Linked DNA regions of Homo sapiens: regions 1, 2 and 4 are each linked to region 3. Evidence: fine-mapped expression QTL. A gene starts in region 3. Each other region holds a variant in brackets. All regions are shown on one strand. Distances are between the middles of the regions.

Region 1 (7,438 bases), 35 kb after region 3:
TATAAGGAGGACCCTTCTTGGGTTTCCCATGAGGAATATAATGCACAGATTGATCTGTGCAGCAACCTTGTATGTTAACCTCTGCTTAGAGTCTGGGAGCCCCCTGAGGGAGTGAGGAGTGCCCCAGTCACTCACCCTAGGGGATTAGTGAAAAGCCCTGTCTGTATCTATTCCAAAAGCTTCCCTAGATGACCCATTCTATTCTTAGAGCCCCTGCTTCCTGCCTTGACCCTTCCTGCTTCAGAACCATGAGGCTTTCAAGCTGGCCAAGGGGCTGGGCCTGTGCCCTTGCTGTAGCAGATGGCAAAAAAGTAACAGGAAAGAAAACAAAATCTTCATTCCATCTTTTATGACTTTTCTGATGAAACCAAAGTGAAGGTTATTTTTTCCCTAGCTGGGTAGCAGCAATCCCCTGGGGTGCTGGGGGATTGGGGTGTGCAGGCAGCACACTCGTGTGTGTATGTGGTATATGCAGGCTGTCTTGATCTTGCTGTCTCTCTCTTTCTCTCTTTCTCTTTCTGCCTCCTCATTTCTTTTTTTCTTCTCCCCGTTCACAATTATACTTCTTCTGGCCTTGTGTCCCTTGATCATCTTGGTCACTGTTCTTCATTACCAGTTTTTCATCCACTTTCCTCTATAATTGCTTGTGGACACCTCCTAGGCTATTTGAGCCATGCCATCTGCTTTCCAGAAACTCTCCTTTTCGAAAGAACGGCTGGCCTCAGCTTGCTAATTTGGAATAAAAGGACCGTATCATATTGGGCATTTTATTCCTGATTTAAGAAAGGCAGGGAGTTCCACTCCTAAAATCTTCTTAGGAAGGAAGAGGAGGAGGAGGGATGGGATTCTTTACTTGGAAGAGCTGAGTGTGAAGATGTTGGGGCTGTAGCAAGCGCTGGGTTTGCTTGGCATCCCTGAGTTCCCTGGCCGAGTTTCTTGCGATTCTGCCTGAACTTATTTAGGTTATCCATTATCCACCTCTATTTTCATCTACATAAGAAAGATAACCCAAGTTTTCCCAATTTTCTTCTTACGTTATGTTAAAAATGAAGAGCAAGCCAGCAGCGTGGGTCTTAGGAAGCGTCCTTTGCAAGCCCCTCATCTCACAGATGAAGCAGAAGGTCATCAGGGCCAGTGAGTTCACGCCGCTCCTCTGACTGCTGGGTCAGTGGCCTCGCCTGCCTCCCAGCTGCTCAGCTCTTGAAATGACTCATCTGGATCTTCCCTTCTAACTTTGCAGGACAGGGCTTGTCTGCTCAGAGACTTAACCCCGTAGTCCCACTCCCTAGACCATTGTGTTCCCTGGAGAACTACTCAGGCCATTCACCCACAGAAGCCTTTGAGAGCCCCTGCCCTCACTTGAGAAATTATCCCCATCAGGCCTAGACCTGCAGGGGCAGGCACAGCCCTCAAACTGTGGCCACACCCCTGAGGCCAGCTGCACTAGCCAGCTGCACTGGACTTGCCCTTTATGGCCCCTTCATACCATACGCCTGGGTAACGGCAAGACCCTCCCCAACCTGCAGAAGCCACAAGCAGTCTTCCCTCTGAAGGCTGATCCTGACCCATTACCCTACCCCACAGCCTGGAGACATCCAAATGACCCCAGCACACAAATGGCCCTTCTCTGAGAGAGTGTCCTCATGGCTGGAGGCCAGAATCACACTCCAGCTTGCTCTTGTGGTTCCAAAGACTCCCATTTGTAAATTCCTCCGACATGAAGATGCAATGCCAGCCCATCTGCTCTGCCAACCTATTCTGCAAGATGGGAATGAAAATGACTTGGCAACAGCAGATCCCTGCCACCCCCTTAGAATTCTTCAGGGCCAAACTGGCAACAGCCTGGTATCTCTACGAAGAGTGCAAGGGAGCCCACATTTTGACTAACACCTACTGTGTGCCAGTTGGTATCTTAGGTGACAACAACAATAGCTAAAATGAGGGGAGAGCTTATTATGTGCCAGGCACTGTGCTGGGGCTTTATATGCAATATCTCATTTGGGCTTTATCACAATTCTAAAAAATAAGTGCTATTATAAATGTTTATTTTACAAGTGGGGAAACTAAGGCTCAATAAGGTCAAGTGTCTTGCCTAAGATCACACATCTAGTAAAAGGCAAGGTCTGGATGTGAACCCAAACTGTCTAATCAAACACCATCTCCTAGTATCCCCATGACCTTGTAGGGGGTGTTATTATCCTCATTTTACAGATGAGAGTCTGAACAGTTAAGTCAATTGCCTAGGATCCCACAACCCGTCAATTACAGAGTGGGATCCAAACCTGGTCTTGCCAAGCTCCAAATTCTGTGCTGTCTCCACTATCTTGCTGCATGAGTCCTGGCAGCTGCCCTGGGCTGGACAGGAGTGGCTGGATGTGGCCTACTCCCAGCAGCTACCAGAGGCTGCCAGCCTCCTGCAGCCACAGCGCATTCCTGCTCACGCCCTGAGGCACACAGAGCTGGCATCCTGAGACCAAGCCAGGTTCCTAGCCCTAGGGCAAATGAAAGACCTCCTGCAGCCTGAGTGCACCTCAACTTTTGTATTTGAACTATCATGAGCACTTTAAAATGTTTTAATCACCTTTTTGAGGTAAAATATATCTACAATAAAATTCACCCCTTTTAAGTGTATACATTGATGAGTGTTGACAAATGTATACAGTCATATAGCCACCACCACGAGATGTAGACCATGATCAAGGTATAGAGCATTTCTGGCTGGCTGTTATGGCTCACGCCTGTAATCCTTGTGCTTTGGGAGGCTGAGGCTGGCAGATCACTTGAGGTCAGGAGTTTGAGACCAGCCTGGCCAACATGGCAAAACCCTGTCTCTACTACAAATACAAAAATTGGCCCAGTGCAGTGGCTCGCGCCTAGAATCCCAGCACTTTGGGAGGCCAAGGCGGGTGGATCAACTGAGGTCAAGAGTTCAAGACCAGCCGGACCAACCTGGAGAAACCTTGTCTCTACTAAAAATACAAATTAGCCAGGCGTGGTGGCGCATGCCTGTAATCCGAGCTACTCAGAAGACTGAGGCACGAGAATCTCTTGAACTCAGGAGGTGAAGGTTGCAGTGAGCCGAGATCGTGCCACTGCACTCCAGCGTGGGTGATGAAGTGAGACTCTGTGTCACCAAAAAAAAAAAAAAAAAGAAGAAGAAGATATAGAGCATTTCTATCACCCCAAAAGACCCTTCACACTCTTTACAGTCAATTCCCTGCCCCCACCACTGGTCCCACGCAATCAGTGATCTTCTTTCTGTTATTATAGTTTTGCCTTTTAAAGAATGTTATGTAAATAGAACCATACGGGAAGTCATTTCTGTCTGACCTCTTTCACTTAACACAATGCTTTTCAGATTCATGCATGTTGCTGTGTGTATCAGTAGTTTGTTCCTTTTTATTGCTGAATAGTATTCCATAATGTACGTATAACACAATTTGTCTGTCTACTTACCCATTGATGGACATTTGAGTTATTTCTAGGTCTCAGATATTAATAATAAAATTTCTTTGAAGATTTGTATACAAGTATTTATGTGAACATAAGCTTTCATTTCTCTTGGGCAAATACAAGTAAGATTGTTGGTAGGTGTAGTGTAGGTGTATGCTTAACTTCACGAGCAGCTACCAAAATATTTTTCAAAGTGACTATACTGTTTCACATTCCCACCAACAATATAGGAGTGATCCAGTTGTTCTGCAGCTTCACCGTCATTTGGTATTGTCAGTTCATTTTAATTTAGCCATTCTTGTGGGTGTGTAGTGGTATCTCTTTACAGTCTTAATTTGTGTTTACCTAATGACTAATGTGCTTATTAGTGATTCATATGTATTTTTTGGTGAAGTGTCTGTTTAAATCCTTTGCCCATTTTTACTATTGTCTCATTATTAATAAATTTGATGAGCACCTTTTTTTTTTTTGAGACAGAGTCTCACTCCGTTGCCCAGTCTGGAGTGCGGTGGCATGATCTCCACTCACTGCAACCTCTGCCTCCCAGGTTCCAGAGATTCTCGTGCCTCAGCCTCCTGAGTAGCTGAGAT[T/C]ACAGGCGTGTGCCACCACACCCGGCTAATTTTTGTATTTTTAGTCGAGACGGGGTTTGGCCATGTTTGCCAGGCTGTTCTCAAACTCCTGGCCTTAAGTGATAGGCCTGCCTCAGCCTCCCAAAGTGCTGGGATTACAGGCGTAAGCCACCATGCCTAGCCAAATGAGCACTTTTTAATCCCAAAACGTAAACTCTCTATGCTTTTCCTGCTGGAGGCAGTGTGGAGTTGTGGTTGGGAGCACAGGCTTTAATAAACCAACTGAGCATGGGTTCCAGATCTCCCATCAGTAGCTCCACAACCCATAATTCAGTTACTTGGGCTCCTGAGTCTCAATTCTCTCATCAGTAAAAAGGAGATAATTATGAATCCATGTCACAGAGGTGTCATGGGGATTCAATGAGATCATCTTAGCACAGTACCTGGCACAATAATCATTCAGTAAATTAGCTGTTTTATTACTGTTGAAAAATACATTATGAAAGCCTACTACTACTCATTCAAAACCAGTTTCTAAAGAGAGACAGTGAGCAGGAAGGAAGTGTAGAGAGAATTCCTGAGTATGCGGATGATGCTAGTTACAGAGGGGACTTGCCACTCCCCACACACAGGTCTGAATTCTCATGGGACCATGACGGAAAGCCCTGGAATGCTTTCCGTCAGCCCTGGGAGGGGACAGTAACTGTGAATCAGCCCAAGGCCCAAAGGGAGCATCCAGAGGAAAGGGTGGGTGGAAGAGAGAGGGCTGGCCATCAGCAAACCTCTGCAGGCTGAACACCCAACAGTCTTCCCTGCCATGCCAGGAGCCTAGCTGCTTTGCTCTGTAAAACCTAATAGAACAAGCTTGTCCAACCCACGGCCCATTGGCCACATGTGGCCAAGGGGGACGGCTTTGAATGTGGCCTAACACAAATTCATAAACTTTCTTTAAACATCATGAGTTTTTTAAGTGTATTTTATGTGTGCCCTAAGACAATTCTTCCACTGTGGCCCAGGGAAACCAAAAGATTGGAGACCCCTGCAATAGAACTTTCAAGTGAAGCAATTCAACTCAGCTGGATGGCTTTTGTTTCTTTTCCCTTTTTGTAGCAGGCTGGTGAGAGGAGATGGAAAAGTTTATTTTAAAAACTCAGCTCCAAGACTCCTTTTGGTCCCATTGTAGCTGAGTAGGCTTCAAGGGAGGGGGCCGCCTCATTGTAGCTGAGTAGGCTTCAAGGGAGGGGGCGCCTATCCCGTACTTTGGATGGAGCCCTCTTGATATACTAGAGACTGTGGAATCCTGCCTTGAGCATCCCTGGGCTGCAGAGGAGCCCTTGGAAGGGGCTTGGAGGCATGGAGCCTCTCCCTTGGTGACTGAAGGCAGATACTGAGACCGGACCAGAGATGTGGACTTCAGAACTGGGGCAGACACCATTCTACTATATTCATAATATATTAATTCTACCTTCTGCATTATAACTTTCTTTTCTTCAAATTTTCTCCTTGCTGAAATGGATCTGAAAATATCAAGCAGCAAACAGATATATTCAACCACTCTAGATAAAGAAACAAATTTTAAGTATTTTTGATGTGTCATGTTCTAGGATAGGTTGGGTTGTTAAAACTGGAGAAGACAGATACCCATGGATAGAGATATGGAATTATAATAGATTTCATAGCTCCAGTTAGAGACAGGAGGCTCAGATTGTTAAGTAATGGCTTGGGCAGGAGAAAGTCTCATTCTTTGCCCTTTGGTTACTATTTTAGGGAGCTTGGACAAGTCACTGAACCTTAATGAAAATATTCAAGCCTGGTATGCTCAGAGCCTCCCTGGATGACAATTTGTTTCCATTTTTGCTTCAAGGTCCTGATCTATATTTATCAATCCCTCACAATGTTGCCCCAGTGGTATTGGTTTACGGAGGCATCATTCATTTATTTGTTCATTCATTTACCGGCATTTACTGAGTACCTACTATGGGCTAGGGGATGGAGCCATGAATAACACATGGTCTGTGTGCTCAGCAATTACAGTAGAAAGAGAAAAACATGAAAAATGTGGGTATTTTAAAAGCTCTCGGGCCAGGTGTGATGGCTCACACCTGTAATCCCGACACTTTAGGAGGCCAAGGCGGATGGATCACCTGAGGTCAGGAGTTCAAAACCAGCCTGGCCAACATAGTGAAACCCCCGTCTCTACTAAAAATTAGCAAATTAGCTGAGTGTGGCACCTGTAATCCCAGCTACTCGGGAGGCTGCGGCAGGAGAATCGCTTGAACCTGGCAGGCGGAGGTTGCAGTAAGCTGAGATTGCACCAATGCACTCCAGCCTGGGCAACAGAGCAAGACTCCGTCTCCAGAAAAAAAAAAAACTCTGTGAGTTCCAGCCACATCTTCTTTCAGTTCCTCAAACACCTCCTGTCTCTCCTCCAGGAGGTTTTTGTGTAAACTCTACTCAAATGCCCTTGGCTACCTCTGGCCACCCTCTGACTAACCCTCCTTACCCCTCAAACCTCACACTTTGCCTGGATCACTTCTACTGACCTCAGTTTAAATGTCACATCTTTGGGTCAGATTTTCTTGTCACCTGCTCTCCTAAAACCCTTTTCCTCTTCAGCATTTATCACCCTAATAAATAATAAGCTGGAGCTAAGATAATAATGGCTATGGAATATATGTCTCCCCTACTAGACTGTAACCTCCATTATGAAAGGACTCTTTTGATTTGGTTCATTCCTAAACCCTGAGCACCAACTGCAGGGCCTGGAATACAGAAATAATGAATGAATGAATATGTCCAAGATGTACTAAAAAAAAAAAAAAAAAGAGGGAGCTGCCAATTCTGCCTGAATGGGGGAAGGTGCATGGTGGGGAAGGGGAGCTTCACAGGGGGTTTTCTGGAAGTGCCCAGGGTGAAACTGTGCTTGAAGGAAGCTCAGATGTCAGTTTTTCAGATTGTGCTGTCTGTATATCTAGGCATTCATAAATACTTTCTAGAACTTTGTGTAGTGTTTTGCAAATGTAGTTAAACAGATTTGTGAATTCAGTAATTTATAAAAACTTAAGCTTGTGTTCTTCTGAATCCCTTTATTTTTCTTCTGCCTCCGAATTAGACACTTCCCCTATGCATTAATTCCAAGTACAGTCAAAGATTAAGTAAGGAAATGATGTGCATGAAAAAAGTTCTGCATGTTTGCTAATAATCTAATGACTGTGACATCTAAACACTGGAAACACCTTGATTTATGGATAATAGGGCTATCTAGAATTTTCAAGGGATCATGGACAAATAATTATAGGCAATTTGATCAAGTGACCATGTAAGACCATTGGTGCAGATACAGACTGATTAAAGTGGAAAAAGTTCTTTTTTCTTCCTAGCTTCCTGCTCTGCCATTACCTTGATAATGTGAGCCA
Region 2 (7,438 bases), 29 kb before region 3:
CTGCACACAGCACGGGGACCCTGGGCTTGGCCCACAAAACCACTTTCTCTCCTGGGCCTCCGGACCTGTGATGGGAGGGGCTGCAGTGAAGACCTCTGACATGCCTTGGAGACATTTTCCCCATGGTCGTGGGGATTAACGTTAGGCTCTTGCTACTTATGCAAATTTCTGCAGCTGGCTTAAATTTCTCCTCAGAAAATGGGTTTTTCTTTTCTATTCCATAGTCAGGCTCCAAATTTTCTGAACTTTTATGCTCTGTTTCCCTTTTAAAACTGAATGCCTTTAACAGCACCCAAGTCACCTCTTAAATGCTTTGCTGCTTAGAAATTTCTTCCACCAGATACCCTAAATCATCTCTCTCAAGTTCAAAGTTCCACAAATCTCTAGGGCAGAGGCAAAATGCCACCAGTCTGTTTGCTAAGACATACAAGAGTCACCTTTGCTCCAGTTCCCAAAAAGTTCCTCATCTCCATCTGAGGCCACCTCAGCCTGGATTTTATTTTTCATATTGCTATCAGTATTTTGGGCAAAGCCATTCAACAAGTCTCCAGGAAGTTTCAAGCCTTCCCACATTTTCCTGGCTTCTTCTGAGCCCTCCAAACTGTTTCAACCTCTGCCTGTTACCCAGTTCCAAAGTTGCTTCCACATTTTCCACATTTGCTGAGTATCTTTTCAGCAACGCCCCACTCTACTGGTACCAATTTACTGTATTAGTCCATTTTCATGCTGCTGATGAAGACATACCCAAAACTAGGAAGAAAAAGAGGTTTAATGGATTTACAGTTCCACATGGCTGGGGAGGCCTCAGAATCATGGCAGAGGGCAAAAGTCGCCTTTTACATGGCGGCAGCAAGAGAGAAGAAGAAGAAGCAAAAGCAGAAACCCCTAATAAACCCATCAGATCTTGTGAAACTTATTCACTATCACGAGAATAGCATGAGAAAGACCAGCCCCCATGATTCAATTACCTCCTCCTGGTTCCCTCCCACAACATGTAGGAATTCTGGGAGATAGAATTCAAGTTGAGATTTGGGTGGGGACACAGCCAAACCGTATCAATGCCCAAGTCCCTTATATAAAATGGCATCGGCCGGGCACGGTGGCTCACGCCTGTAATCCCAGCACTTTGGGAGGCCGAGACGGGCGGATCACGAGGTCAGGAGATCGAGACCATCCTGGCTAACACGGTGAAACCCCGTCTCTACTAAAAATACAAAAATTAGCCGGGCATGGTGGCGTGTGCCTGTAGTCCCAGCTACACGGGAGGCTGAGGCAGGAGAATGGCGTGAACCCGGGAGGCGGAGCTTGCAGTGAGTCGAGATCGCGCCACTGCACTCCAGCCTGTGCGACAGAGCGAAACTCCGTCTCAAAAAAAAAAAAAAAAAAAAATGGCATCGTATTTGCATATAATGTACACATATCCTCCCAAATACTTTAAATCACATCTGGACTACCTAATGCAATGCTTACACATCACTTCATTTGCCTGGATTCAATGTAGTACTCAGTGCATGCAAATTCAAGTTTTGCTTTTTGAAACTTTGTGGAATTTTTTTCTCACACAATTTTGATCCGCAGTTGGTTGAATCCACAGATGCACAATTCATAGAATACCAACTATTCCAAGATTACTTCCCTTTAGTTTCTCCTGCAGGTCCTGGTACTTAGTAATTTGCCTCTGGGTGGAGTTCTGCAGATTTAGCAATTTTTCATCATTTCTTCCCAGCATGCTTCAAAGACATAGAAAGCAAAAGCGAAAACAAACAAAAGAAGCAAAAACAAAAGTGTTTCATAGTTTTAAGATTGTTTAAAATGTGCCTTTCTCCAGAGTTCAAAGGTGCGTTGTGCTCCTGACACATGAGGGCACTATTTCTGTAGTTTGTAATATTCATGGTACAGAAAGAATATTCATGTGGGAAGCTAGGTCTGCAGAACCGTGGCTAGGAACATGCAGAGAAAAATGGTTTGCTATGTGTTCTAGGCTCGCCAGGTTTTCCAAGTGTGACATGTCCTAATGTACCCTATGAACAATGCCAGGACTCTCGGGGCTGCAACCTGGCCTTCTGACCACAGGGTTGCTAGCTGGAACTTCCTTGAAATGAGGATGACCTCATCTCATTTAGCTCTGCAGGGATAGAACTAGTGTATTAAAACACCAGCTTTGGAGACTGACTGAGAATGAAAGATGAATGACCTAGAGCAAGCTGCTTAACCTTTTCTTGCTCTAATGATGGAGGTATTGCTGAGCACAGTGGCTCACGCCTGTAATCCCAGCACTTTGAGAGGCCAAGGTGGGCAGACTGCTTGAGCTCAGGAGTTGAGACCAACCTGGGTAACATGGTGAAACACCATCTCTACAAAAAAATATAAAAATTAGCTGGGCATGGTGGCACATACCTGTACTCCCAGCTACTTGGGAGGCTGAGACGGGAGGGTCAACTGAGCCTGGGAGGTCAAGGCTGCAGTGAGCTATGACTGCATTACTGTACTCTAGTCTGGGTGACAGAGTAAAGCCCTGTCTCAAAAAAGAAAAGTAAATAAATAAAAATGGAGGTATTGCCTCACAGATCTGTGAGGAAGATTAAGTGGGGGTAATCTATCTAAAGCGCCTGACACTTAGTTGGAACTCAATAAGGAGACACTAATAGTGTTTGTTACTTAGCAGTGCTGATGTATAGTGATGCTCAGGACAAGTTTAAGCAAGCGAATGAATGAATAGGATGTGTAGAATCACACAGATTTTACCAAACTGAAGAAAACTAACACTTTCGAGCTTTTTTAGTGTTGAATCACTTCAGGGCAAAGTGATCAGCCAGTGTGCGGTAAGCCCTCTAAACTTCTGTTAGCCTTCTTGATTCCTTAACTGAACCGGTGAGAATGCTGAGGTCAGAGGAAAAAAGTGATGTGCCCCAGGCTTCAGAGCTGTTTAGGGGATCGGGATGAGACCCAAGGTCTCCTGAGGCCTAGCACAAAGCTTAACCCATAGGGACCTGCCTGGCTGGGCTGGGAGTTGAGGGGTTAACAGACTGATCCTAGAAAACAAATAGGCTTTTGGCTTGGTTTACCTGTGCTTGCTAGGCATATTGTTACCCAGCAGTGACCCCGTCTGAGTGTGGAAAGAGCTGAACCACAAGAGCATCCCAGCTTGCCCCAGGGCAGCCACCCAGGGTTGACCTCTAATCTGAAGACATCTTTGGGGAGAGCTCTCACACACTTCCCCAAATATACTTCTATGTGCTTCTGTGTGTGTCACAAGAGGCCTTGGGTCACCTCCTTCCTTTG[C/A]GCAATGAGATCAAAAGAGCAGTTTCTGCTTCTGCTGTTGCTTCTTTCCTGTTACCACTTTCTTGGACTTTTCGGGGACTGTTGAATTCTTAGGACACAGCCCTGCTCTGGCCCTGGTGGGCTTCCTCTATTAGAAGGCTCCCCAGGGCTTCCTGACTGGAGCAGATGGCCCTCCCTTTCCCGGGTGAAACAGGCTGACCTGGGCAGGCCGGCCCCTCTGCCTTTGATCTGCAGGTGGGAGGCAATAAAAGGCACTTTCCACGTGCCTGCTATAACCATATTTTCCAAATTCAAAAGCAGGACTCAGGAGTCTCTCTGAGCCTACTCTGGTTTGAGAGGCTGCCTGTAAAAATAAATAAATTAAATAACTAAGAGCAGGACTTTACCCACCCCATACATATGTCCTTCTAAGGACTTTGAGACAAAAGATGGGAAATTGGACCATGCCAGGAAACCCAGGATGGCTGGCTGCCATACACAGGCCTCATGGAAAATTCTCTCCTCTGGGGGATGTCTGCCGGAAGTGCCATCTGCTTTTGCCACAGATTCATGGCTGTGAGTGTGGCTCAGGCAATAACCACAGTAGACCCTTGGTTAACTCCTGCTGTGGTTCCGCCAGGAAGCCTGGCATGAACAGTTGTGTCCAGGAAATCTTTTCCCTGATTTCACTAGCTTGTTTTATCTGCCTGACAACCTTACTCCCAGGAAGGCTTTGCAAGGCACTTTCACCTTCAGCTCTTGGAATGAATAAATACAGCTATGATTTTTTAAAAAATATCAGTCCAACAATTTCGGTATGTCCAATAAATATCATAATGACCTGTTTCACGTATCAGGAACTGTGCTGTGCACTGTCAGAGATAAAATGGTGAAAAATGCCATTCTCTTTAATCCTTTTGAGGCCCTGCTGGCATGAAATCGTGTTAGTGCTCAAGGGAAGGTACAATGGCTGAACACATAGTTTCCACCTTTTCACACTCAACTACAGTACAGATTAATCACGGTGTCATAGGAGGGAGCCAGACTTGGCATCAGATCCTGGATTCAAATCTTGCCACCTTCACTTGATGACTGTCTGGTACTGAACAAGGTACTCTTTCAACCTCTTACTCCTCATCTACCAAGAAGGAGGTCATAATTCCTCCTGGCAGTGAGGTTGGGTGAGGAATAAATGCTGGCACATTGTTTATGAGCCTAAGGCATAATAGATGCTGAGAAAAGGTTTATTTCCTTCTTTCCTTAAGGAGCTTAGAGGCTAATAGATAACAACTGGTCCTGCTGTAACTAACACACACTGCTGACTGTCATACAATCTCAACTAGGGGTGTGAAAGCATGCCGAGGTGGCCTTTTGAGGTTTGTTGCATATGCTTGGGGAAAAACGCTCAGATTAGCATTGCCGGGGGCCGTTTCCTGGGCTCCTTCCTGCAGGGCCTGTTTCGGGGCCCTCCACCCAAATCCACTCCGGGAGGAGTAAGTTTCGGGGCCTTTATTACCCACTTGTGATTAGGGATCAGAAGTGGCCAGTCGGGGTGGGTTGGCAGTGACTTGCACCCAAGGGAAGGATGGGAGCCCACAAGAGTGGCAGGGCTCTGGGGAGAGAGGCAGGCTAACCAGTAGAAGTGAATAGGATGTGCTAAAGTATTCCCTTGAGAGTGGAAATACCATACAGAAGACTTGGATATGTGGTTTTCACCCTAAACCAAGCTGAGGAACCAGCACCAAATGCTTAACAAACACACAAACAAAAACAAAAACCCCCCTCTGGGTGGCCCAATGCTGTAGCACTTCACTTTTCATGGGACCTTGCAGCTTACATGCAGCATTCAAAGACATGAGTTTATTTGGGCCTTCCAATATCCGAGCTTGGTAGGTAGGCTAATTTCATCACTTCATTGTACAGAGGAAAAATCTGAGATTCAGAGAAGTTACACAACTTGCCAAGATCACATCTAAGTAGCAGAGTTGTGGCTCTAAGCCACATAATCCAGACTTTTTTTTTTTTTTTTTTTTTTTTGAGATGAAGTCTCGCTCTGTCGCCCAGGCTTTAGTGCAGTGGTACAATCTCAGCTCACTGCAAGCTCCGCCTCCCGGGTTCAAGCAATTCTCCCATCTCAGCCTCCCAAGTAGCTGGGATTACAGGCACCTGCCATCATGCCCGGCTAATTTTTGTAGTTTTAGTAGAGACAAGGTTTCACCATGTTGGCCAGGCTGGTCTTGAACTCCTGACCTCAGGTGATCCGCCTGCCTTGGCCTCCCAAAGTGCTGGGATTACAGGTATGAGCCACCACGCCTGGCCCAGACTTCTTAAAGAAAACATAAATGGCCTATCAATTCATGTAAGAGTGTTCCAAAATTATTATAGTAGTGGCTCCTCTATGTTCTCCCCAATTTTTTTCTCTTTTCTATAGCAACAGAAGTTTTTTTACTGTGTACATGGAAACTCAGATAAAGACTCTATTTCCCAACTTCCCTTGCAGCTACAATTGTTCATGTCATTGTTTGGGACAACATGAGATATAAGTAGAGGTGATATGTGCAATCCTCAAGGCCAGACTCTTAAAAAGAAGTTGCATGTTCTCCTCCATCTTGATGGTAGGGATGCAAGATGTGATGATAGGAGCTGAGCAAGACATTTTGTGGTGTACCAGCTCTGAACCACTCACCTGGAATTTTATGTGAGAGAGATAAACTTAAGTTTAAGCCATTATATTTTGGGTTTATTTGTTACAGAAGCCTAACATTTACTCTAACTAACATGGGTATATGGATCTGATAATAGTCCTTAGGAAAGAAGACTGTGGAACAATCATGAAAAAAGAATAGGAGTTAAAGCCTGCAGGACATGTTACCAGTATGTTCTGCCCTTGCAGAGTCTCCTGAATTCTGTTCCCTGTGTTGGGCCTCATCCTTAGGCACACAGAGGGTGTCCCCTCAAATTCTTATTTCATCAAAATTGAGCCAACAATTGCCCTTTCTCTCAAATTGATTTCAGGTGGCATGACTCAAAGAGCACCAGACTTAAGGTCAGAAGATCTGAAGTCTAATTCCGGCTCGGTTTTTTCTGCCGTTCACAGTTATTTAATCTCTCTGAGCTTAGCTTTCCTCATCTATAAACTGAAGATGATGGTATCTGCCTCCAGGATTATTGTGACAATTGGCTTAGCTCAATGCTTGGCACAAAACAGACACTTCATACTCTCCCTCCTTCCCAGCCCCTCTGCCTTGCCGCATGCAGAACAGCCATGTGTCACATGAGTACAGTAAAGACCCCCATCGTCTCTTGTCTCACCGGCCCACCAAGGAAAAACACACTGGGAAATGTATCCAAGGACTTATCGGCCCTAAGGCCACAGGGCTTAGGCTTTGGTGAGCAGAGAGTGGAGGCCTAGAGTAATGTTGGCAGAATCCAAGAGTCTTTTTAAAAGGAGGGGCGGATCAGTGAAACCCGGAGCAAAAGAGCCTTGCAGCATTTGGGAAACACAACAGTGGGCTCCTTTATGTGGATGAAGTGCTGAGATCATGATCAGAGCCTCTGGGCTCTTGGCATGACCTTTCGGGTCAGAGGTACCTGACAAGACTGGCTGGTTGGTTCAAGTTCAGGGTGTCACAGTTCTGGTGGCTCCAGTCTCCACTGAGAAACCTGGGAAAATCTTTCTGCTGGACAGCCCAGGGGCTGACATCAACCTGAACTGCTACCAAGTATCAGGAGAAGCTTTCTTAACAAGTCAGGAACAATGAGACATTGTGCAGGCAGGTAGATCACAGTCTGTGTCCAAATCCCACAAGAAGAATTCTTAAGTATCTGCTTTCAGCCCCTGGAGACAGGAGTTTTTCATCTGGGGTCCTAAACTCCTCAACCACAACCTCTGGCCACGTTCTTGGCCCTCACCGGTCCCCATGTATCTCCTCTCTGGTAGTGGGACCCCAAATACATATATGGCTCCACTACCAGGGGGCCTGCAGGATTCCTGGAGGCTGAACTCCAATTCCCACTTTTCCATCCTTATCAGAAGCCTGACTGTCCTGTCCCTCTCATCCTAATCTAATCCAGTCAAGTTCAGGGTTTGCCAGCACACCAGGGCCTTCTCCTCTCCAACCAGACAGTGATTGAGGCTCCGGGATGGTAGAGTATGAGTCAGATCAGACCAGCGCCA
Region 3 (7,438 bases):
TATTGAGGGCCTTCTATATGCCTGGCTCCTCCCCATACCTCCCCATACGCCCCTCCCTTGGCTGAGCTGTATCTCTGGTGTTCTTGTTTTTTTATTTTTTGTTTTTTTTTTTTTTTTTAGATGGAGTCTCACTCTGTTGCCCAGGCTGGAGTGCAGCTGCACGATCTCGGCTCACTGCAACCTCTGCCTTGTGGGTTCAAGCAATTCACTTGCCTGAGCCTCCTAAGTAGCTGGGATTACAGGCACATGCCACCACGCCCAGCTAATTTTTGTATTTTTAGTAGAGACGGGGTTTTGCCATGTTGGCCAGGCTGGTCTCAAACTCCTGACCTCGTGATCCGCCTGCCTCGGCCTCCCAAAGTGCTGGGATTATAGGCGTGAGCTACTGCACCTGGCCTTTTTTTTTTTTTTTGTCGGAGTCTTGGCTCTGTCACCCAGGCTGGAGTGCAGTGGCAAGAATTTGGCTCACTGCAACCTCTGCCCCCCAGGTTCAAGCAATTCTTCTGCCTCAGCCTCCCGCGTAGCTGAGATTACAGGCACACGCCACCATGCCCAGCTAATTTTTGTATTTTTTTAGTAGAGATGGGGTTTCACTATGTTGGCCAGGCTGGTCCCTAACTCCTGACCTTGTGATCCACCTGCCTCACCTCCCAAAGTTCTGGGATTACAGGCATGAGCCCAGCCTGGTGTTTTTATTGTTAGTTACCTGATGACCTCTACTTATTGCGTGGCTGGTTCTGGCTATCAGGATATATGAAGGGGAAGGCCCAGGGTAGACTGAAGGAAGTGGTTCCGTGTTAGCCAGCCAGACCTCCAGAGAGAGAGGGGAACCAACTCCTCGGAAAGTCACTTTCCCTTCCCCTTGGGCTGTTGTTTCCTCCCAGCCCCCAGAGCAGCCAGTTACAATCCCAGATAACCCAGCAAACCTGGGTGTTTATCAGCAGAGTTACTGCTATTCTGGCTCCTGGAGATCTTCTGTAGGGACAGAAGAAGAAGATAAGGGGAGTACACACACCACACCTACTCATGGCTGCCTAAACACAGCTCGGGGCTACCTCTTGGTCCCTCCCTCCCCGTTTTCCACCCCCTCCCTCAGGAGAAGTCCCAGTCTGGGGCCCAAATAGCTCTGGAGCAGCATTAAACTCTGCACTGGGGACCCAGGAGCATGGTGGAGGCCAAGCTTGTTTGCTTTGTGGTCATCTGTTCTCAGCCAAGAGAGGCCTAAGCAGGGCGTGGGGAGCAGCTGCAAGTCACCTTGGGTGACTGATGTTATCTAGGCCTAACGGTTTCCTCTGGGTAAGCACTTCCGCCCTCCTGTTTGTGAAGCCAGAAACCTGTGCTGGGGCAGCCCCATTCTGAGCACAAAGGAGGACTAGGTAGAGGGAGAAAGGAAAAGGCCCTGTGGAGCAGAGTTAGAAGACCTGATAGTAGACTATGCAGTCATCACTACGTCCTGCACCTTTAAAAAGAAAGGAAAGAAGCACGAGCAAAAGTGTGCCTTGCAGGTTACCAGTAAATACCCTTCCTTACTGCCGACTCTGCTCTCGAGTCTTCACCTGAGCAGCCATGTGGCTGGACTGGGAGGGGCCTCACTATTAATTCCTGGGAGTGAGGGCTCTTTTCACTGGGTCCCCGAGTGCCTGTCTCTAAATAAAAGAAATATCAGGCTCTTATTCATCTGAAGCTTGTACATGGGGCTAAGCATGATAAAAACAGCCACTTTTTGCAGAGTGCCTACTACATTGTATAGGTGAGGAAAATGAGAATCAGAGCAGTTAAGTGACTTGTCTAAAAAATACAACTAGAAAGTAGCAGAGCTGGAATTCAGCCCTCAATCTGTCTGTTCCTAAAACCAGGCGTCTTCCTCTATGCTTAGCTAAGCTAAAGAACTAGAAGCCACTCTGGCATTAGGGCTGCCAGTGTTTTAGAAAGTTGGGCCTTAGAAAGTTCTAGGACAGGAAGGAGGCCATATTTCTAAGACTGGTACCCAAAGCAGCAATCTAAGTGCCTGAAAGTGCAAAGATGGTGCCGGGATAACCAGAATCAGGGTAGTCTTTGTAGCAGGAGCAGACTCTCAGCCTTTTTTCTCTACTGTTTCTCCACATGTCTCTTCACAGTGCTCACCATCACCTGTCCCATTGCCCACCTCTGATGGGGCTCCCCTCCCCTGGTTGAGCTGGGGTTGGGCGGGTGAGAATGCTGTGGGATAACCCAGAGGCGTCATATACCCAGCCAATACCCTGGCACTCACAGGTCTCTCAAGGCATTTTCCTGTTTCTCTCTGCCGAAGGGTCTGAAGGGGGCCGGGATCCGGGTAGCAGGGAGTGACCCTGGTGCAGATTCCAGTCCCCGAATCCCTCCCATGCGGTCTCTGCTGCCCAGCCGGGATGGCCCTAAAGGAAGGTTGCTATGCTGGGCCCTATGGGAATCAGATGTTGAGCATCTTGCCCTTTGCTATATTTAACAGGAATGGAGACGAGGCCCTTTAGCAAGCAGCTTGTGGGAGCCAAAATTCCCACAAAACCGAATGCATCAGTCAAAGCAAGGTTTGAAGAAAAGATTTACCACTTCAGGGAGCTTGGAAAACTTTGCGTGGATTCCTGATTTTCCTCCTCCTCCTCCTCCTTCTACTCGTATACAGAAGATAGATGGATAGATGGATAGATAGTGGTTTCCTGGAAGGTGGAGAGGAAAAGAGGTGAGAAGGGAAAGGTGGTCCCGTCGGCGCCACGCTGAGCTCTGAAGCCTCGGTCAGAAGGGCTCCTCTTTTGGTAGAACACAAACGCCTTCCACCAGGGAGGGTCCTCGAACTCCACCCAAGAACTGCAGGGAAACCAGGTATGACAGTAATGCAATTTTAAAAAGAGGGAGAGGAAGAAGGAAAGCAGGAAGGATGGACACAAAAGAAGGAAATCGAAAAGAGAGGAAACAAAAAGAATTAAAGGACCACTCTAATTCTTGAAGGGACAGGAAAAAGAAAGAAGGCGCATTAAGGGAGGGAGACGTTGAGAAGGACTGAGACCGTGGCAAAGCCCAGGGTCCTGAGAAACTTCGCGAGACAGAGGGGCCCGGTGGCTGCCCATCCCCATGTTTGGGCACATGGAGTCGTGGCTCCCGCTCTTGAGTCCTGCCCTGGGAGGGACAGTATCTGTTTAGATTTGCGTCTAAATTTAAACCCTGATCGTCGGCCTCCCTCCCCGCTCCCCACCCTCCCCTCCCCTCCCCTTCCTCCCTCCCTCCCTCCTCCTCCTTCCTCGTTCTCTCGCGCAGGGCCCCCGCGGCCGGGGCAGTCCCGCAGCCGAGCGCAGCCGGGCGCGCGCCACCGCCCACTCGCCCTGTGCCCGCCGCAGCCCGAAACTGGCCACGGCCGGGAGCGGAGGGGACAGCGGGGATCGTGAGCTCCGGCCCGGGCGAGCGGGTGCGTCTGCCGCAGAGTCGGCACCTGAAGGACATGGAGGTAAAGGACCCCGGAGGGAGACGCGGGGCTGAGCGGTGAGCGGTGTATCGGGCGCCCCTTCCCCGGGCGGCTGCCCCTGCCCTGAGCATGGAGCACGCGGCTCATCGCTGCTGCCAACTAGAAGGGCAAATGCCTGCTGTTCCGACGCCTCCTTGACCAACTCCGAAGGATCGTCCCTGGTCCCACCTAGGACACCCGGGTTGGGAGGCTGGGGTTGGTAAGGAAAGATCTCAGAGGGAGAGAAAAGGGCTTTCCTAGAGGCCCGGGTATTTTGGCTAGGAACTTAAATGCTAAAAAAAAAAAAAAAAAAAAAAAAAAAAAAAAGTTAGGTGCAGCCAAGGTTTGTAAATGGGTAAACGTGTCAGCAAAAACTGCAAGAAGGCAGAAGCCCTTCAATCTGAAGAGATGGGTATTGAAAGAGAAACAGAACTGGCAACACGAGGCCAGCACGTCTTCGTGGGTCTGTGGGCTTCCCTTTTCGCTTTCGGAGTGGCATTTTAGAGAGTCCAGTTGTCTTCTTGCTTCTGAAGTCCTTCCTGTGTCTGTCGCATCTTCTTCCATAACTTTCTGAAAGCTCCCCTTACTGGTCAGTCGAATGACATTATTTCTGATAAAACTTAAGACTCCCTTGGACACCCTTGCCTCTGAAGCTGTGTGTATGGAGGTATGCTGGCCACATCTGCAGGCTTTGCCAGAGGGAGGCCCCGCACTTCTCTGCCTGCTGAGAGGAGGTCCGGGGACTTTCCTTGTTCTGTTCCAACCTCAGCAGAGGAGTGGTTGGGTGTATTCCCCACATCCCTCTCTTCTGCACATCTTGAGGCTTCCCTGTGTTTCCTCCTTGAAAATGAGACCTGATATGTAGCCCTAAGTCAATCTTAGTAGGACCTGGGGCTTTTGAGAAGATGCAAATGTTATATAGTTTTAAAGGTGATTCCCACTCATATTCAAAAGGAAACATGTGTTGCTCACTAGACTGTGGTCAGTGCAATCAGGATTCACAGTTAACTCCGCTATCTCTTCCCCGCTCCAGGCTCTGTGCCTGGGCCCTGGTGGTCTTTTTATTTTTTTCTTTTGAGACAGGGTCTCATTCTGTTACCCAGGCTGGAGTGCAGTGGCACAATCTCAGCTCACTGCAACCTCTGCCTCCCAGGCTCAAAGGATCCTCCCACCTCAGCCTCCCAAGTGGCTGGGACTACCAGTGTGTACCACCATGCCTGGCTAGTTTTAAAATTTTTTGTAGAGACAAGTTCTCACTATATTACCCATGCTGGTCTTGAACTCCTGGGCTCAAGTGATCCTCTAAGCCTTGGCCTCCCAAAGTGCTGGATTTGCAGGCATGAGCCACACCACTCCTGGCCCTGGTTGTGTTTTCTAAGCTAGACTCTGTGCTTGCCGGCAAAGCTTCATGACTTCTCTAAAGGGGCAATAAGTTTGTCCTTTAGAGAAGTCAGGGAGCTATATTCAGGCATCCAGCCCAGCCAGTTGTCTTCAAGGAACAGGGAATCACCTTCAAGGAGACTTTATAGACTGCAAGAACCACTGGAGTCTAATATGGACCCTCCACAGAAACATTTGCAAGGCCAGGAAGCTCTGGCAGATTAGGGCTGGCGGTGAGGCACGCACACAGCGAAGCTCAGCAGGTGGTGTGCACACATCCACCCAAAGATCACACAAACACAAAACAACAGGGTTCTCTCTGAGCTGGCCACTGCTTCAGGGCAGAGGAGGGAAATGGCCCAGGCAACACCCAGCTTCTTGGGTTGGGTGAAGTCTCCTTAAGAAATTGTTTTAGAAGTGGCTTCCCTCTTCTGGAAGTGTACAAACTGCCTTAGGCCCCAGGCTGCAGATTCACTATGATGTATGGCCTGTCTAACCTCTTGAAGAAAAGGATTGGAGATAAGAGAAAAGCAACTCTTAGACTTCAAGCAGGTTGCTGCTGGAGGGCCAAATGCAAGTGTCAACTTTGTTCTAGGAAAACAAGGAGGGTCTCCTTCCACAGAGGCAGTTTCTCCCCCCTCAGATGAGGAAGGAATAGTGTATGGCAGAGGCCCTGAAACTATCAGCTGAGCAACTTCCTGTGTGGCTTGGGGGGTGGAGGGGATTGCAGTAAAAGAGAAGGCCCTCCCTTATTGAGATGTGTAGTAACTTATGCAGGATTCCACCAAGATACCAAAATCACTCCCGTGCTAGGGTTTGGGAGGGACGCAGGGAGGGAATAGCTCAGCCAGCCAGAAGCCTGACAAATCACCCTGCGTCTCACATCCAGTAGGTCACTAAGCCTAGTCCATCAATTTGCTGGTTGGACAGTGGCTGCTTTTGAAGTTTCTTTGTCCAAATGCCTGGAAAACAAAAAACAACAAAAATGAAACAAACAAACAAAAAAACAACATGCAACTGCTAGTGAAGAAAGTAAAGAGGAAATCTAGGGGCCAGGGAAGTGACCATTCTTAGCCAGGAAGTAAACTTTTCATGGTGAAGCATGATATGCAGGAGTTGGATTTGGGGGTTTCTGAAAATCTCAGAGTAAAACCCTCTTTTGAGAGGTGAAACTCAGTTTTGGGACATGAAAGGGCTACTGTATCTGGAAAGAAATTAAGTTATATTACTTCTCAGTACTAGGAATCCAAACCAGACCAAAGAGGGTTACTCAATATTCATTCTCTAAAGCTCACGTATTATTGGAAGTCTTTGAGAGATCTTTTTTTAAAGTCACTGTTACCATTATCAACAACATCAATCTTCATCCCTCATAAAGCCCTGTGGAATAAACAAAGTATAGATGCCATCTGATCCCTGCCTTTTAAAAGCTCACAACCCAATAAAGGGACTATATCCTGTCACATATATAATCTTCAAATGCATAAATGCCAGTTGAATACTGCTGCAGATCATGAGTTCTGCAGGAGTTCAGACTAGATTAGGTTCAGAAGAAGCCTTGGAAGAAAGATGTGGGTAAGGTGGAGAAGGTATAAGGGATGGGCACAGGGAGAACATGCCAGCTTTGTCCAGCTGGCTGGGAAGGAAGGTAGGAAAGCAGTAACAGAAAAAAATGAAAGTAATAAGATAAATCCAAGGTCACTGAGTATAGTAGATGCCCAGCTAAGTGGGTGAGTGGGAGCTGAAATCCAAGTCACTTGGAGGAAAAGGTTACTTTTTGTTCATACAAAATCTCCTTGCCTAGTTGAGCCTCAAACGGGTGGCTTTTTCTAATTCATGCAGAGGCCATCTGCAACTCTTGAAGGCCAGAGTTGTATGGCCCTGGATTCTGCTCCATGGACAGTAGGAAACTCTGAGAGGTGTTGAGGCAGCTGGCAGCAGTGATGTAGCCGGGATGATACAGCAAAAATGCCACTTCATGGAGTGAGCAAGGGAACCAGGTGAGAAAGCATCTTTTCCAGTACAGGTATATTCTGACTTCAGGATACAATAAGAATGGAGAAGATGGAAAAGAGTAAAGACCATGCGCTGGAAGGGAAGTCAGAAATCACCAAGCTGCCCAGAAGAGTGAAGTTCTCTATGGTGCCAGGGAAAATGGCAGTACCAACTTTTACAGCTCCATACAAAGCCTTTTGCAGGCAGATTTTCTCATTGGTCTTTGAGTCTCCAGAATGAGCACGGTGCCTGGCATATAGTCATATAATTTCTCAATAAAAGTTTGCTTGATAAATGATTAGCATAAATAGGGAACTCCTTCCCCTCTCGGTCTGTAGCTCAAACGTCTCCACCTCTGGAAGGCTTCTGTGAAGCCCCCAGACTCTACAGCACTCTCAGAGCACTTTGTTCAAGCCACTATTAGAACACTAGGCAGAACTGGAACTGTCAGCCTCCCTAACTGTCACCCCGGAAGGCTCCTTGAGGGCAGGGGCCATGTCTTATATATTTAGAGCCTAATGGGCACCAAGAAAGGCTTGTTGCATGAGCAAATATTGAAGAGGGAAGGAAGATCAGGGTTTTTTTTTTTAACAAGCAGTGTTTAGATAT
Region 4 (7,438 bases), 83 kb after region 3:
GGAGGTGGAGGCAGCAGTGAGCTGAGATCACGCCACTGTACTCCAGCCTGGGTGACAGAGTGAGACTCGGTCTCAATAAAAAAAAAAAAAAAAAAAAGGCTAGGATTCCCGCCCCCAAGTACTCCTGCAAGTAATATGACTCTAGTCCTTCATGATGTAGTTTTACATAGAAATTTAAGAAAGTGGCCAGGTGCAGTGGCTCACACCTGTAATCCCAGCACTTTGGGAGGCCAAGGTGGGTGGATCACCTGAGGTCAGGAGTTCGAGACCAGCCTGGCCAACACGGTGAAACCCCGTCTCTACTAAAAATACAAAAATTAGCTGAGCAGGGTGCCGCACACCTGTAATCCCAGCTACTCCGGGGGCTGAGGCAGGAGAATCGCTTGAACCTAGGAGGCGGAGGTTGCAGTGAGCCGAGATTGTGCCATTGCACTCCAGCCTGGGCGACAGAGTGAGACTGTGTCTCTAAAAAAAAAAAAAAAGAAAAGAAAGAAATTAGAGAAAGTTACTCTAACTTGGGTAAACCCCTAAGTCAGTTACCACACTTACCAGGTGCTTCTGTTTTAAAGAATGAGTGGACTGAATTGCACTTTAACCAGCATGCAGAAACAAAATTCTAGAATAATTATATGATTGGTACTCAAAGGATGGATATTGCCAAGACACAGATACTCATTCCCCCCCAAGAAAATAATAGCCTCTTCAAACAATAGGACCTCCAATACTAGTCACTGCTGTTTGACTATCTAAGGAAGCCACACATGCTAGACGGTGCCAGGCACATCCCCATCACAGTTGCACCTGGCCTCTCAGGAGTGATACAAACAGGCTTATTGACCACCTCTGGAAGCAGAAGGGATGGAGAAGCACAAAAGGGCCTGTTTTACATTGCTTCTAATTCTGTGTCTCCATTCTACCAAGAACAAAGAAATGCAGTTTCAAGACCCCTGTTTTCTTTGTGGCTTAAAAACGTTAATTATCCTAATTTTTTTCTCATTGTAAAAGCAATGCATCTTTATTTTAGAAAATTGGTGGAGGGGAAGAAAAAATTTTAAGAAGCAAACAAAAAAGTATTTTTAAGTCCACTATCTAGGGATAACTAATGTTACTATTTTATGGATATTCTTCTTTTTTTTTAGTGCATTATATACGTTTTGTTTTAATTCTTGGTTGGTGCAAAATTGGGATTTTACTATATCTAATTTTCTCTTTCTTTTTTGTAACATACTCTCATGAGCATGTCTTCATAAAGAATCACAAGTTTGATCATGAAAATGATACACTTTTGTGTTAACCAGAAACATCTGACCAGAACTAGGTCTGTATAAAACAGAGGGTAATAAGATGAACAGGTAATAAGACTCCTTGGTGAAAGTGAAGGTGTCCCAGCGGAGAGCAGTTCTTTCACAATCTACATCTGAGATTCATATTACCCCTCTGACCTCATGTACTCTCAGAACTTAAAAACAAGCAAAACCTTTTGAATGAAAAATGAAGAGGCTGAGGCAATTCCAAGAATTCATTAATAGTGATTCAATGAAGGGACTGCAAAATTCAGAGGGACACATGATCTAAACCTCATAAAAAGGATCACTGAGGGAAACCAAATAGAAATATGTTTAGTAAAATGTAGCTGAAGCTTTTGCTGGATATTGGACTAGAATCTGGAAAAAGACACAAATTTTCAGTCAGATCCAAGTTTCTGTTTAAATTGGAGGAAGGCTTGCTGTGCGTGACACAAGCCTACCAAGACAACTGCCATGGCCTTCTAGTCCATTAGTACATAACCCCACAAGCAGCAAACAAGGCTCAGCATATGAGCATGAGGCCAGTCTTGTGTGCCAAGTTAGCGAGAAGGTTCCTTGGAGTGGTGAACCCATGTAATTAATTGTATTCTTATTCCTAAGGACTGATCTTGCTAGACAGAGCCAAGTCTGCACCACCTAAGCCTAAATTGGGTAAGAATTCAGTAGCCAGCAAATCTTAGTTATTAAATAGTCACTGAATCCCCATTACAAGTGATTTAAATGCCCATTCACAGTTTCAATAATGTCATCCCAGAGTTATTCTAATCATCTCCTAATGGATTTACTAGTTTTCTAATTTCTTTTACTCCCTTTTATGCATCTGACCCCAAGTCAAAATTGTTATCATCAACAATACTTATTATCAGCATTCTCAAAAGCTTTGATGCCATCAAAACCCTTAAATGAAATTAAAAGATCAAATCATGGGCTTTAAAGTTATCTGAGAGCCACTGTTCCTCTTCTTCCACGTTTCCATCTTACTTGTTAACCAGCCAAGCCAAGCTCCTTAGCACAGAATTGCATCAAGAGTTATAAAAGTGGCCAAGGATCAGTGTTTGTCTCTGTGACCAGGCCAACTCTGGGAGTGTGTCCTAAGGAAATAATCCAAAGTACATGGAAAGGGGCAGGGTGCAATGGCTCACGCCTGTAATCCCAGCACTTTGGAGGCCGAAGTGGACAGATCACTTGAGCCCAGGAGTTGGGAGACCAGCCTGGGCAACATAGTGAAACTCCATCTCTACAAAAAAATACAAAAATATTAGCCAGGTGTGGGTGAACTAGCTGGGTGTAGGTGGCACATGCCTGTCCCAGCTACCTGGGAGGCTGAGGTAGGAGGATCACTTGAGCCCAGGAGGTTGAGGCTGCAGTGAGCCATGATGGCACCACTGCACTCCAGCCTGAGTGACAGAGTGAGACCCTGTCTCAAAAAAAAAAAAAAAAAAAAGTATATACACAAAATTTCAACAAAATGTTTGACACCACTTACTTATACAGTGGAAGAATAATTAAGAAAAGGATGTGCCATTATCTTGATGGGATACTATGAAGCCATTACAAACTACTTAACGGAGTGGAAAAGCAGACTTGGGAACTTATTTTTATTTTTTATCCCTCTCCCCAGGCTTGGGAAATTAAAACAACAACGAACAAAAACAAACAAAAAACCCTTGAGAGTGTATACTCAGCAAAGATAGAAGTGTCCACCTCTATCATGTTCCACACACATGGTGAGTGGCAGGAATATGTCAAAGCTCCCAGGAGTGGGATACAGCTCAGGCAAGGCAGAGAGAGCCCCAGCGAAGGCACGCATACTCTCAAAGGGAAGGAGGGCGACGCTTAGCTGCTCAGGACTTGCCCTAATGAAAACTCTCTCCCCAACCTTCCCCACCCTTGACCCATCCTCAAACTACCAAACAGTGTGTTAAAAGCAATATCTAGCCGGGCGCGGTGGCTCAACCCAACACTTTGGGAGGCCGAGAAAGGCGGATCACCTGAGATCGGGAGTTCGAGACCAGCCTGACCAACATGGAGAAACCCGTCTCTACTAAAAATACAAAATTAGCCAGGCGTGGTGGTGCATGCCTGTAATCCCAGCTACTCGGGAGGCTGAGGCAGAAGAATCACTTCAACCTGGGAGGCAGAGGTTGCGGTGAGCCGAGATCGCGCCATTGCACTCCAGCCTGGGCAACAAGAGCGACACTTCGTCTCAAAATAAAAAAGAAAAGAAAAGAAATTAAACAATATCCAGTTCTCACACCTTAGGTAAGTAGGAGGAAGAAAAGTGGTCTCAGACAAGGACAGGGTGTCAATAGTTTTACGCACTTCCAAACAAATAGAAGGCGTAGACAGGGCTGCCCACCTTAGACCTGGCCCCTGCACCAGCCAGCGACAGGGCTCTCTACATCGCCAGAGTGGGCTAAAGAAAGGTTTTTCAGTGCTCGCTGTTTGTTCTGAGGTGTCTTCACTGCATTTCCCGTTACACTCCCCACCGGCATGAACCCTGGTCCTGACCTCCTATCGCTAAGTGTCGTCCCAAAAGCTCACTGACATTAAAAGGAAGAGAGGAAGAGAGAGAGAAAAGAGCAGAGAAGCGGGTGCACGTGGGAAGCTCTCGGTTAGCAGGTGACAGGGCAAAAGCACCACCAGGACCTGGAAGAACGTCTGACCAGGCTACAGAGCAATGGATTTCTCTTACGCTGAACTGAAAGTAGCCTAAGAATGCAAGAGTGTTTTAGAAATAAGGGACGTCTGCAACTTGGCCACAGACTGCAAGGAGCCGGAGTGCAGAGTGGCGGGCTGGGGTCGTGAAGTGGGGGGAAG[C/T]GGTGAGAGCAGTCCGGAAAGCAGGCAAGACGAGCTAGACCCCAGGCCGGGAAACCACACCGGCGGGAGACCCCGCACTCGGACTCCCGCTCCTCTGAGCAGAAGAGCAGTAGGGCAGGCCCACATTTTCTGCTGGACGGGAGGGAGAAGACCCGGCCCACTGCCACTGCCCTCTCTTCTCCAAGCTACCGAGGTACCAATCTTCTCCCCAACTCTCCAGTCCCTTTCACACGCCCCAGCCCCCAGTTGTCCCACCCTCCAGGACCTCGGGAGTTCCTAGACCAGCGCCACCGCCAGCTCCTAGCCCAGTGGATTTATGTGAGCGACTTAACATCTCTGAGCCTCAGTTTCCTCATCTGCAAATGGAGATACAATGGCACCTAGGGGATTATTACGAATATCAGGTGAGTTCAATACAAGCAAAGGGCTTAAAAGAGTGCACTATCCCCAAATGAAGGTTCGGGGAGTTAACTTAATATTCACTCCTATGGGATTTCGTCTCCCACCACCCCTTTCTTAGCCAGGATTCGGGTATTCCCTTCCCTCGCTCGGACTCCCCGTCTTCATTCACCGACCCACTCGCGGAGCGAGCAGGCCCAGCTCTGCGTGCACTGACGGGCTGGGCGCGGGCGGGGCGCCGCCGGGACTTGGCACCGGGCTGCGTCCTGAGGCGCCCTGCCCCGCCCCGCACTTTCCTCAGCCCGGGCTCCCGGGCGCCCGCCAACACTGCGAGTGGAACAGCCGGGGCGAGCCCGTAAGCCGGAAGGCGGCTTCCGGGAGCGCGTGCGAACGTGGAGGCCACGCCGGCGATGGGGGGTTGGAACGGCCGGACCAGGCAAAAGCCGGTCCCTCCCTGCTCCTCCACGCTGTGGGGCAGTAAGCGCTCCGGACCCGAGGCTTAGGGAATCAGAGGACACGCAGTATAAGGGTCGCAGGTCGTGGTTGCTCGGAACACGAGGTGAGAGGCGGAACAAGGCTGAAGGGAAGCTCTGGGAGTGCCCTTGCCGAGAGCGGCTCGTTGGTCTAGGGGTATGATTCTCGCTTCGGGTGCGAGAGGTCCCGGGTTCAAATCCCGGACGAGCCCAGGCTTTTACCCACCCCACACCCGAAATTTAAAAACAGATTTTTTCCCCCTAATTCCCCACATATTCCATTCAGAAACTTAAATGAAAACATACTGGTCCCATGAGCTCGAATGTTGATCCCCTTTGTTTTTTGAAGCGAGGGACCATGTGAGCTCAATTAATACAACATATGGTTACTGTACGCCCAAAGGCAACGCATTCAAATTGCTTTGTACCATGTAAAACACACACTCTTGAAAAACAGACGCCTAGTGCGGAATCCTGTGCACGCCTTTAACTCCTCCAAACGAGCAGGGGGCGTCATGGATTAGCATGTCCCGGGGTTCGGGAATCAGCATTTCCGAGGAAAGGGGCGCTCAGGAGATATCCCCACCCCCGATGAGGGGCACTGTCGTGGATGAGTTTAAACCACGCCATAGGCAGCCAAGAACTGAGCTCCCGATGGCCCTGTACACGCGCTGCACCCAGGAATAGACAGCTAGGGACAATGTTTTCATAGTACAATACTACATTACTAGCAAACTTTTTACATTTTCAAAATGAGGCCTTTTAATGGTATTTCAATGTAGAGTGTGCTCTAAGTTTCCAAAAATCTCAATTTTGTGTTTTACTCTGACCAACCTGTATTTATTACGTTTAGTAATCTATCCCCAAAAAAACTCACCTTTAAGTGATTCTTACTCCAAAACAGGGCTCGTCCGGGATTTGAACCCGGGACCTCTCGCACCCTAAGCGAGAATCATACCCCTAGACCAACGAGCCGACACAAACTCCACCTTACTGTCATCAGAAAGGAACACATAGCTATTTAGTCCTGCGCCCTCAAGTGGTTGCTCGCATGTTAGGATTCGATCTTTGGGTTGTGTTTGCTTTCTATAGATACCGCGTTTTCAATTTTCTTTCTTTTCTGTTTTGCTCTTTGAAAATCAGTAACACAGAAGACAGCAAAATTGTCACTATCAGTATAATATCGACCTCTTATTTCGAAAATTGTAATTGTATTTCTATTCATGGCTAATAAATGGCTATTAGTGTGGGACAATGTCACTGTGGCAGATTCCAGACTCTCTCCGTTACTGAGTGAGTTCTGGATGTTTCATTCGTTCTTTTTCGCACTTTTCTATAATGTTAAAATCTCGGTTTCTTGCCGATATTTTTTATTGTAATATTCAAAGCCCTACCTATCTAGCCTTGTGAATTCCCATCTCTGTTTTTACTCGAAGTGTTCTCTTCAGCTGGAAAACCTGTTTGCTTTTGGACAAATCCCAAACTCTAACCTTCCCAGAAAAAGATCCTTTAACATATCAAAACCAATAGTATGTGGTAAATAACTGGGTTTCAGTCTTATCTCCTCCAACTGTAACTTCTTAGAGCGCAAGACACCTACACCAACACGAAATTCTACTGTAGAATTGGCAACCAATTGTGTGATTGCTGTTCGATTGTCCCAATATCTTTAATTAGATATAGTAAGCATGGCTTCTTAACTATATTTTAAATTCTTTTTCCTTTCTTTCTTTTTTTTTTTTTTTTTTTGAGACGTTGTCTCGCTTCGCTCTTTCGCCAGGCTGGAGAGAAGTGGTGTGATCTCGGCTCACTGCAACCTCCGCCCCCTCCGCCCTCCAGGTTCAAGCGATTCTCCGCCTCCCGAGTAGCTGGGATTACAGGCACCTGCCACCATGCCCAGCTAATTTTTGTATTTTTAGTAGAGGCGGGTTTCACCATGTTGGCCAGGCTGGTCTCCAACTCCTGACCTCAGTTGATCCACCCTCCTCGGCCTCCCAAAGTACAAGCGTGAGCCACTGCGCCCGGCCTAATTTCTTTTTTTTTTTTTTTTTTTTTTTTTTTTTTTTTTGAGACAGAGTCTAGCTCTGTCACCCAGGCTGGAGTGCAGTGGCGCGATCTCGGCTCACTGCAAGCTCCGCCTCCTGGGTTCATGCCATTCTCCTGCCTCAGCCACCCCAGTAGCTGGGACTACAGGCGCCCGCCACCACGCCTGGCTAATTTTTTTTGTATTTTAATAGAGTCGGGGTTTCACCGTGTTAGCTAAGATGGTCTCGATCTCCTGACCTCGTGATCCACCTGCCTCGGCCTGCCAAAGTGCTGGGATTACCACCGTGCCTGGCCCTAAATTCTTAAATACTTAGCATTGAGGCTTATCATAAGGAAGCTGGTGCTCAATGAATGATTCTGAATGATTACAATTTGTCTCAAATTCCTTAACAA

The links.
Region 1: its variant is fine-mapped to the expression of RCSD1 in macrophages (Nedelec 2016, PIP 0.95).
Region 2: its variant is fine-mapped to the expression of RCSD1 in whole blood (TOPMed, PIP above 0.99).
Region 4: its variant is fine-mapped to the expression of RCSD1 in whole blood (TOPMed, PIP above 0.99).

What each region holds. Positions count from the first base shown.
Region 1 is chr1:167,661,907-167,669,344 of GRCh38, forward strand. All of the region lies in intron 1 of RCSD1 (RCSD domain containing 1), which reads left to right. Among named protein-coding and RNA genes, the nearest start is that of RCSD1, 35 kb to the left of the region's middle. RefSeq lists an enhancer at 1,134-1,233. The variant T/C (reference allele first, on the strand shown) is at 4,044.
Region 2 is chr1:167,598,371-167,605,808 of GRCh38, forward strand. No RefSeq gene overlaps it. Among named protein-coding and RNA genes, the nearest start is that of RCSD1, 28 kb to the right of the region's middle. RefSeq lists an enhancer at 3,247-3,396. The variant C/A (reference allele first, on the strand shown) is at 3,283.
Region 3 is chr1:167,626,973-167,634,410 of GRCh38, forward strand. RCSD1 (RCSD domain containing 1) reads left to right here and starts at 3,260. Exons shown (of 7, transcript NM_052862.4): 1 at 3,260-3,457. The coding sequence starts at 3,452. RefSeq lists enhancers at 1,089-1,148, 1,229-1,398, 1,409-1,458, 3,977-4,046 and silencers at 3,117-3,196, 3,217-3,436.
Region 4 is chr1:167,709,586-167,717,023 of GRCh38, forward strand. TRP-CGG1-1 (tRNA-Pro (anticodon CGG) 1-1) reads left to right here and starts at 5,140; the gene lies at 5,140-5,211. TRP-AGG2-1 (tRNA-Pro (anticodon AGG) 2-1) reads right to left here and starts at 5,974; the gene lies at 5,903-5,974. RefSeq lists enhancers at 3,658-4,496, 3,991-4,150 and silencers at 4,621-4,860, 5,161-5,260. The variant C/T (reference allele first, on the strand shown) is at 4,128.